Homo sapiens: one gene and its partner. The protein of the gene in region 2 interacts with the protein of the main gene of each other region in a biochemical or structural test. Each region holds a gene or a part of one and is shown on either strand. Other genes may lie near its edges.

What was found.
Region 1: the proteins of POU2AF1 (region 2) and SIAH1 form a complex in vitro, tested with the Homo sapiens proteins (2 studies listed by BioGRID).

Annotation. Positions count from the first base shown.
Region 1 is NC_000016.10:48,378,660-48,382,471, forward strand, and holds part of SIAH1 (E3 ubiquitin-protein ligase SIAH1), read right to left. Parts: intron 1-3,812. UniProt on the Homo sapiens protein: E3 ubiquitin-protein ligase that mediates ubiquitination and subsequent proteasomal degradation of target proteins.
Region 2 is NC_000011.10:111,355,164-111,358,975, forward strand, and holds part of POU2AF1 (POU domain class 2-associating factor 1), read right to left. Parts: intron 3,756-3,812; coding exon 3,625-3,755; intron 2,675-3,624; coding exon 2,632-2,674; intron 2,548-2,631; coding exon 2,282-2,547; intron 1,271-2,281; coding exon of another isoform or gene 1,253-1,270; exon of another isoform or gene 1-1,252. UniProt on the Homo sapiens protein: Transcriptional coactivator that specifically associates with either POU2F1/OCT1 or POU2F2/OCT2. It boosts the POU2F1/OCT1 mediated promoter activity and to a lesser extent, that of POU2F2/OCT2. It recognizes the POU domains of POU2F1/OCT1 and POU2F2/OCT2.

The DNA of each region.
Region 1 (3,812 bases), on a different chromosome or scaffold from region 2:
CTCCTTGAACAACAGCCAGATGCTAATATCAGCTAACACTTCACAGCATCTCTCCTCTCTTTCCCTCTGCACAGTTCTTCAACCTGTCTCTCTCTACTACCCATTTGCTCCAGCAACACTCCTCAGGTCCTAGAGCAGTCCAAATTCATCCCTACTTCATGGGGCCTTTATCTGGCTGCATCTTCCATCTAAGATGTACTCCTTCCCCCTTCAAAGGGCGAGCTCCTTATCCTTGGACACCAGGTCTCCCTTCCACCCCACTGGTCTCTTCAGCACTTTGACTCCTTTACAGTACACTTCACAATTTGTAATTCTGTTTCTTTCTTTCCTCACTAGAAGGTAAGTGGTAATATTTAGAGAAGTAACTTACTCAACAACTAATCTTTTTACAACACTTGCTGTGTTAGGCAATGTGCTTTTAGATGCAAAGTAGGCAGTGTCTCTGCTCTCATGGAACTTAAAGTCACAAACACAACTAATAAGTGATAGAGCCAAGAGACACATCCAGATCTGACTCTTAAGGGCTTGTCCTCTTAGCCACTTAATTATACTGACACTCTAGCATTAGGACATGGGGGCTGGGGGGGCGAGGGGAAGGCAGGGAACAGCAATATACTTAATAACTGTTCATGTACTAATAGAACTAAGGCTTAGAGAGGTTCAGTAATCTACCCAAAGTAGCACAAATAGACATTTCAGAGGCTAAATACAATCATGACCAAAGGCACAGAGATGCTAAAGCAGTGTTCAAGGAACAAAAGAACCCAGTTGGCCTAGGTAGGGCAAAGGGGAAACACAGGCAATAAGGCTAGAGAAGTTTGTAAGAAACACTATGCCTTGGTAAAAACAAAACACAACGAAAAGGCTAGAAGAGTTTAATAAGGACAGTGTGGAGTCAGTCGCTCAATAACTTTTTACTGAGCACCACCTATGTTCCAGAAAGAGTCCTAAACTCTTGAGACACAAGGATGACCAAGTCGTCATAGAGATTACAGTCTATCTGGGGAGGCATACAACTAAAGAAAAATTATAATTCAGGAGGATATGTTACAGTGGGACCGAGCAGAGTGCTATGGGAACACAGAGATGACATCCAATTCAATGTGCAGAGTTCACAAAGAGCTTCTCAGCTAGTGATGTCCAGGCTGAGATAAGAGAGCTTAATAGGATGAGAGGGGCTTGCAAGTAAAGTCCAAAATGGCAGGGGAGTAACAAGAGAGGCCAGCTCAGGAGAGGCTATGTACTTACGAACCATATCAAGAACTTAGAACTTTACACTGAAAGCCTTTTAAGTCAGGTTCACCTATTAGAAAGCTCACTTAAACTGCAGTAGGAAAACTGACTGTAAGGCTGGAGACCAAAAGGAGATCTCTTAAAGGTAGAAGGAAATGAATGTAAATGTGAAGAAGAGAGGCAATGCCAGCTTTGAGATAGAGAACAGAAAAAATATCTGCAAAAGACGTATCTAAAAAAGAACTGTTATCCAAAATATGCAAACCTGGCCGAACACGGTGGCTCACGCCTGTAATCCCAGCACTTTGGGAGGCTGAGGCAGGCAGATCACTTGAGGCCAGGAGTTCACCAGGCTGGCCAACATGGCGAAACCCCGTCTCTACTAAATATACAAAAATTAGCCGAGCACGGTGGGCTCGTTCCTCTAATCTCAGCTACTCAGGAGCTACTCAGCAGGCTGAGCACGAGAACAACTGCTTGAGCCTGGGAGGCGGAGGTTGCAGTTAGCTGAGTTGGCGCCACCGCACTCCAGTCTGGACAAGAGTAAGACTCTGTCTCCAAAAAAACAAACAAAAAAAAAACAAAAACTCACCAATAACAAAACAACCCAACCTAAAAAAAAGAGTCAAAAAGACCTTAACTAACTCCCCACCAAAGAGATATACAGATAACAACTAGCATATGAAATGATGCTCCACATCACATGTCATCACGGAAATGCAAATTTAAAACAGTAAGATACCACTACAGGCCAGGCGCAGTGGCCCACGCCTGTAATCCCACCACTTTGGGAGGCCGAGGTGGGCGAATCACTTGAGGTCAGGAGTTCGAGACTGACCTGGCCAGCATGGCAAAACCCCGTCTCTACTAAAAGTAAAAAGAAAAATTAGCCGGGCGTGGTGGTGTATGCCTCTAATCCCAGCTACTCAGGAGGCTGAGGCAGGAGAAATCACTTGAACCTGGGATGTGGAGGTTGCAATGAGCCGAGATCACGCCATTGCACTCCAGCCTGGGCGACAGAGTGAGACTCCGTCTCAAAAAAAAAAAAAAAAAGAACGGCTAAAATCCAGAACAGTGGTAGCTCCAAATCCGGCCGAGGATACAGAGCAACAGGAACGCTCATTCATTGCTTGTAGGAATGCAAAATGGTACAGCCAATCTGGAAGACAGTTTGGCAATTTCTTACAAAACTAAAGATACTCTTCACTTTGGGAGGCTAAGACAGGCAGATCACCTGAGGTCAGGAGATCAAGACCAGCCTGGCCGACATGTTGAAACCCTGCCTCTACTAAAAATCCAAAAATTAGCTGGGCGTCATGGCAGGCGCCTGTAATCCCAGCTACTCAGGAGACTGAGGCACGAGAATCACTTGAACCCAGGAGGTGGAAGTTGCAGTGAGCTGAGATTGTGCCACTGTACTCCACCCCAGGGCACAGAGTGAGACTGTCTCAAAAAAACAGCAGCAAAACAACTAAACTCTTACTATCTGATCCAGCAATCACATTCCTTGGCATTTACCCAAAGGAGTTACAAACTCATGGCCACACAAAAACCTGCAAATGGACGTTTACAGCAGCTTTATTCAGAATTGCCAAGACTTCGAAGCCAACCAAGACATCCTTCAGTAGGTGAATGGATAAACCAACTGTGGTACATCTAGACAACAGATTATTATGCAGCCCTAAAGAAATGAATTACCAAGCCATAAAGACGTGGAGGAAACCTAAATGCATATTACTAAGTGAAAGAAGCCAATGTGAAAAGGCTACATATTTTAAAAGCCCAGTTACACATATGACATTCTGGAAAAGGCAAAACTATGGTGACAATAAAAGAAAGAAGATAAGTGGTTGGGGGTGTGGGGACAAATAGGTGGAAGTCAGAGGATTTCTAGGGTGGTGAAAGCATTCATGTATGTCATTATGTATTTGTCTAAACCCATAAAATGTACGCCACTATAATCTTTGGGTAATAATGGTGTGTCAATGTAGGTTCCTCAATTGTAACAAACGTACCACTTTGGCGGGGAATGTTGATAATGGAGGAGGTTACACGTGTAGGGGCAGGGGCTACACGCGAAATCTCTTGTCTCTTCTACTCAAGTTGCTATGAACCTAATGCTGCTCTAAAAAATAAAGTCAATTAAAAAAATCTGCATAAGGGGATATATGGGTCTACATCTCAGCAGGCAAAAAGATTGGAGGCCAGGCACAGCAGCTCACACCTGTAATCTCAGCACTTTGGGAGTCCGAGGTGGGCGGATTACTTGAGCCCAGGAGTTTGTGACCAGCCTAGGCAAGATGGCGAGACCTGACCTGGTCTCTACAAAATAACTTTTTAAAAAATTAGCCCAGTGTGATGGCACATGCTCCTAGTCCCAGCCACTTATGAGGCTAAGGTGGGGGGAACCTTTGAGCCCAGTTGGAGGCCACAATAAGCTATGACATCACCACTGCACTCCAGCCTGGGCAACATAGCAAGACTATCTCAAAAAAAAATAAAAATAAAAATAAAGATCTGAATGTCATTAGAATACGCACAGTAGTAGGTGAGTAAACAAATACCTACTGAGCACTAGG
Region 2 (3,812 bases):
GGAAGCACTGCTTTGTCAGCAAACTTGGCCTTCCTTCCTGCTGCTGCCTGGTGCCTTCCACATCCTCATCGTCCTCTGTCTCTGAGCTGATCTCCATGGCCATCCCACTTATGGGCACCCCCCATGACCCTCCAAGTGTTAGAGTCCTTCTCCTGAATGCTCTGCGAGTCATACCTCTCACCTGCACGGCGACTGCCCTCACAAACCTCAGATCAGGCCTGCAACAGGGGCGGGACCTGGATTCTTACTTTTCTTTCACACTTGAGGAAAGCAGATAGAAGAGGATGCTCTCTGCATGGATTCATGAGAGGGAGGCCAAAATCTCCCCCTACCATCCCTGTCTCCCCTGTCATATATCCCTCCTACTGTCACTGTGTCTTGACAGCAAACTGTTAGAATCATTTAGGGCAGGGCTTTTCTCAACCTCCTGGGGATCTTGTTAGAACGCAGCTTCTGGCACAGGAAGTCTAGAGTGGGGCCTGGGATTTTGCATGTCTAATCAGATCTCAGGGGGACTCCAATGTGGCCAGTCCAGGGACAAGAGTTTGAGTAGCAAGGCTTTAGGGTGTTTTTGCACAGAATGATAGAGCTGGAAATGGTCTCAGAGGCCTTCCAGCCTCCTGAAATCCGGGCTGAGGTGTACACCCCACCACAGCATAATCACTTCCTCTCCTTTGACTTAAGCCAGTGGTCCCCATCCCAGTGTCCTGAAACCAGACAGAATCCGGGAAAGCCTCATGATTCCCAGCTTTTCAAAAATCCAGATGGAAATTCTACATTTCCCAGTCATAAACCTGTAACTATAGGTTTCTTTGCTCGGGAATACAATTACTTCCACTCAGCACACAGCAGGTCTTATCTCTGCTGATCAGGAGTGTGGACTTACAGCTCTAGCCAGCTTTGATGACTTAATTTACAAAATGGCAAAACAAATAAATCAATTCTTAATGAATACTGTTTGTTTGATATACAGAACCTTTCAAAGCAGAAGGTGGGAATGATGAAAGGGGATAAATAATGAAAGGAATCCTTGGTAATGAAATGGGTGGGAGCCGTGAGTCCTCCACCCACCACCCTCACCCCAGGCCTCTGACATGGAAATGAGTTGCCTGGGAGAGGTGTTGGATTAACTCCTTCTTATCTATCATCATCCAGGCTCCAAAATTGGTTTGCTGGGTAGGCAGGTGGACCTGGGAGGGAAGGGCTTCTGCAGGCCTTTCATAGAAGGTGCTTGGAGGCAGGGGCAGGTGCATCAGGATGACACTGGACCCTGGAGGGAAATGGAAGAGACAAGGTGGACCAAAGCAAGCACCACCATCGAAGGTGGGCTCTGGGACTGCTCAAGGCCCAGCTCTACTTCCCACGGTTTCCCTGGACTGGAGCTGGATACAGCTGTAACCACAGGTCTTTTTGCCCTTGAATACTTGCAAAATTCCCAGTCCTTTAGTCGAACAGGAATCATTAACATAAATCTATTTCCCTTCCTTCCTTCATTCCCGGGGGAAGAGGCTCTTCCTTTCCCATCAAGCCCTTGGTTAATGTTAGCAGATTTTGATATGATGATAACTAACATATATTAGTGGTTTCTGTATGCCAGACACTGTGCTAAGCCCTCCACACTCATTATTTCATTTGATCCTGACAACGACCCTTTTCTTGGTATTCCCATTTTACAGATGAGGACACTGAGGCTCAGAGAGTTTTAAGTCACTAAACCCAGAGTCACATAGCTAGTAAGTGAAGGGACAGGGATTTGAACAAGGCAATCTGACAGTAGAGACAGAACTTTAAAAAATTACCCCACACGTGGGTCTGACACCATCAAAAATATCACCTGTTGTTCAGCCTAGAAATCTTCTGTTAAACCCCATTATTAAGTGAACAATCACTCCCTAAGTTATCTGAATAGAAATGAAAGGCTAGTTCCAACACAAGACCCCATGTAGATCTCGCCTGGTGCCACATTCACTAAAAACTTCAACTCAGAACCAAGACTCACTGCTTGCAGGGAAGCTGGGGAGATTTAGAACAGGGAATCAGAGAAGACCTCCCCAGTCCTGAGGAGCAGAAAGTATGACGAGAGAGGCTGCGAGACATCTTTGTGGAAGTTATCTCAGGAAATGAGAATCAGAGCAGGCCTCCATGGAGACCAAGGCGAGCTCTGATGACCTGATTATCTTGAGAATCAATAGCAAGGAAGATCAGGATCGAGAAGTCAGCTCTGGTTATAAAAGGGTGCACTCAGCATGGGCGGGTGCAGTCCTGCCTTTGTGTGACATACCGTGACATTGGTGATGAGTGGCGGAGAGGCATAGGTCAACACTGAGGAGGGCCCCACCACCGTGTAGCTGGGGCACACGGGCTGCACATACATGTCAGCTGAGTAGGGGCAGCTGACAGCTTCATGGGGCACATACTCGGTGTAAGGTGTCCATGGGGCCAGGGGCTGCAGGGTGGCCGGGGTGGGCTGGGAGAGCCAGCCGGCACACAGGGCAGCCTCCTCTGTCACTGCAGACACAGAACCTTCCATGTCCAGGCAGGAAGGACCTGTGGGAAGAAGGAAATTACAGAACTTCAGATGCCACCCAGATGAGAGGCCTGGGGGCCACCAGGGCTACGGGGCACTCTTACCCACTGTGGTGTAGGTCGCCAGGGGCTGATGGGGCAGCACCACCTAGAGGGGAGAGGAGAAGACCAGGGTCAATGTTTAGCCCTCGTCAACCGGCCCTGTGCAGAGAACTTGCCCAGAGGGCCTCAGGGCAGGAGAATAGAAGATAGGAATCTCTCTGGTTAGAACAAAACATCCCACCCCGTATCCCAACCATCACCACCTACACTTGAGAGATTTGCGTTTCTATTTAGCAGGAAGTCTGTGCGCTCAGGGAGCTGGTGTCTTCTTCTTCTCAGGGGGGGCCCCCAACTCACACCAGGGTATGCAAGTCATTCGCTCACTCAGGCCTTGACAGTAGCTGTGTTCGGTGGGCCAGCTGAGCCGGCCCTGATCCCTCATCCCAGTTGCTCCACCCTAGCTCTATCCCTGGCAGCCTCCACCAAGGGACCTGCGCTCCTTCCTGCCTGATCCTTTTGGTCACCTCCCAAGCCATCTGCCTGCGCGCACACACATTCTCACACAAACACACACACTCTCTCACACACGTACTCTCTCACACACTCTCACACTCTCACACTCACACTCTCACACACTCACACACTCTCTCACACACACTCCCTCACACACATACTCTCTCACACACACGCTCACACTCTCACACTCACTCTCACACACACACACTCTCTCACACACATACATTCTCACACACTGACACATACACATTCTCTCTCACACTATCACACACTCACACACGCCATCACACACAAACACATACACACTCACATGCATACACTCACACACTCACACTCCCTCACACACACATACACTCTCACACACTGACGCAGATACACATTCTCTCTCACACTATCACACTCTCACACACTCTATCACACACAAACACATACACACACGCATACACATACTCACACACACATACACTCTCACACTATCCCTGACACACACATTCTCTTTCACACACACACACTCACACTCTCACACACACAAACTCTCACCGCCGTAGGTGCAGGTGCTGCCCCACTGCTGGCGTGGCCTCGCTTCCTCCTCAGCAGTTCCTTCACTGGCTCCTTCACACGGACGCCCTGGTATGGCCGGGCCGGGGCTGGGGCTTGCTCCGGAGCTGTGGCTGTGAAAAGCAATGTCCCTGGAGCCCATGGTCCTTCTCAGACGAGCCCCCACCCCA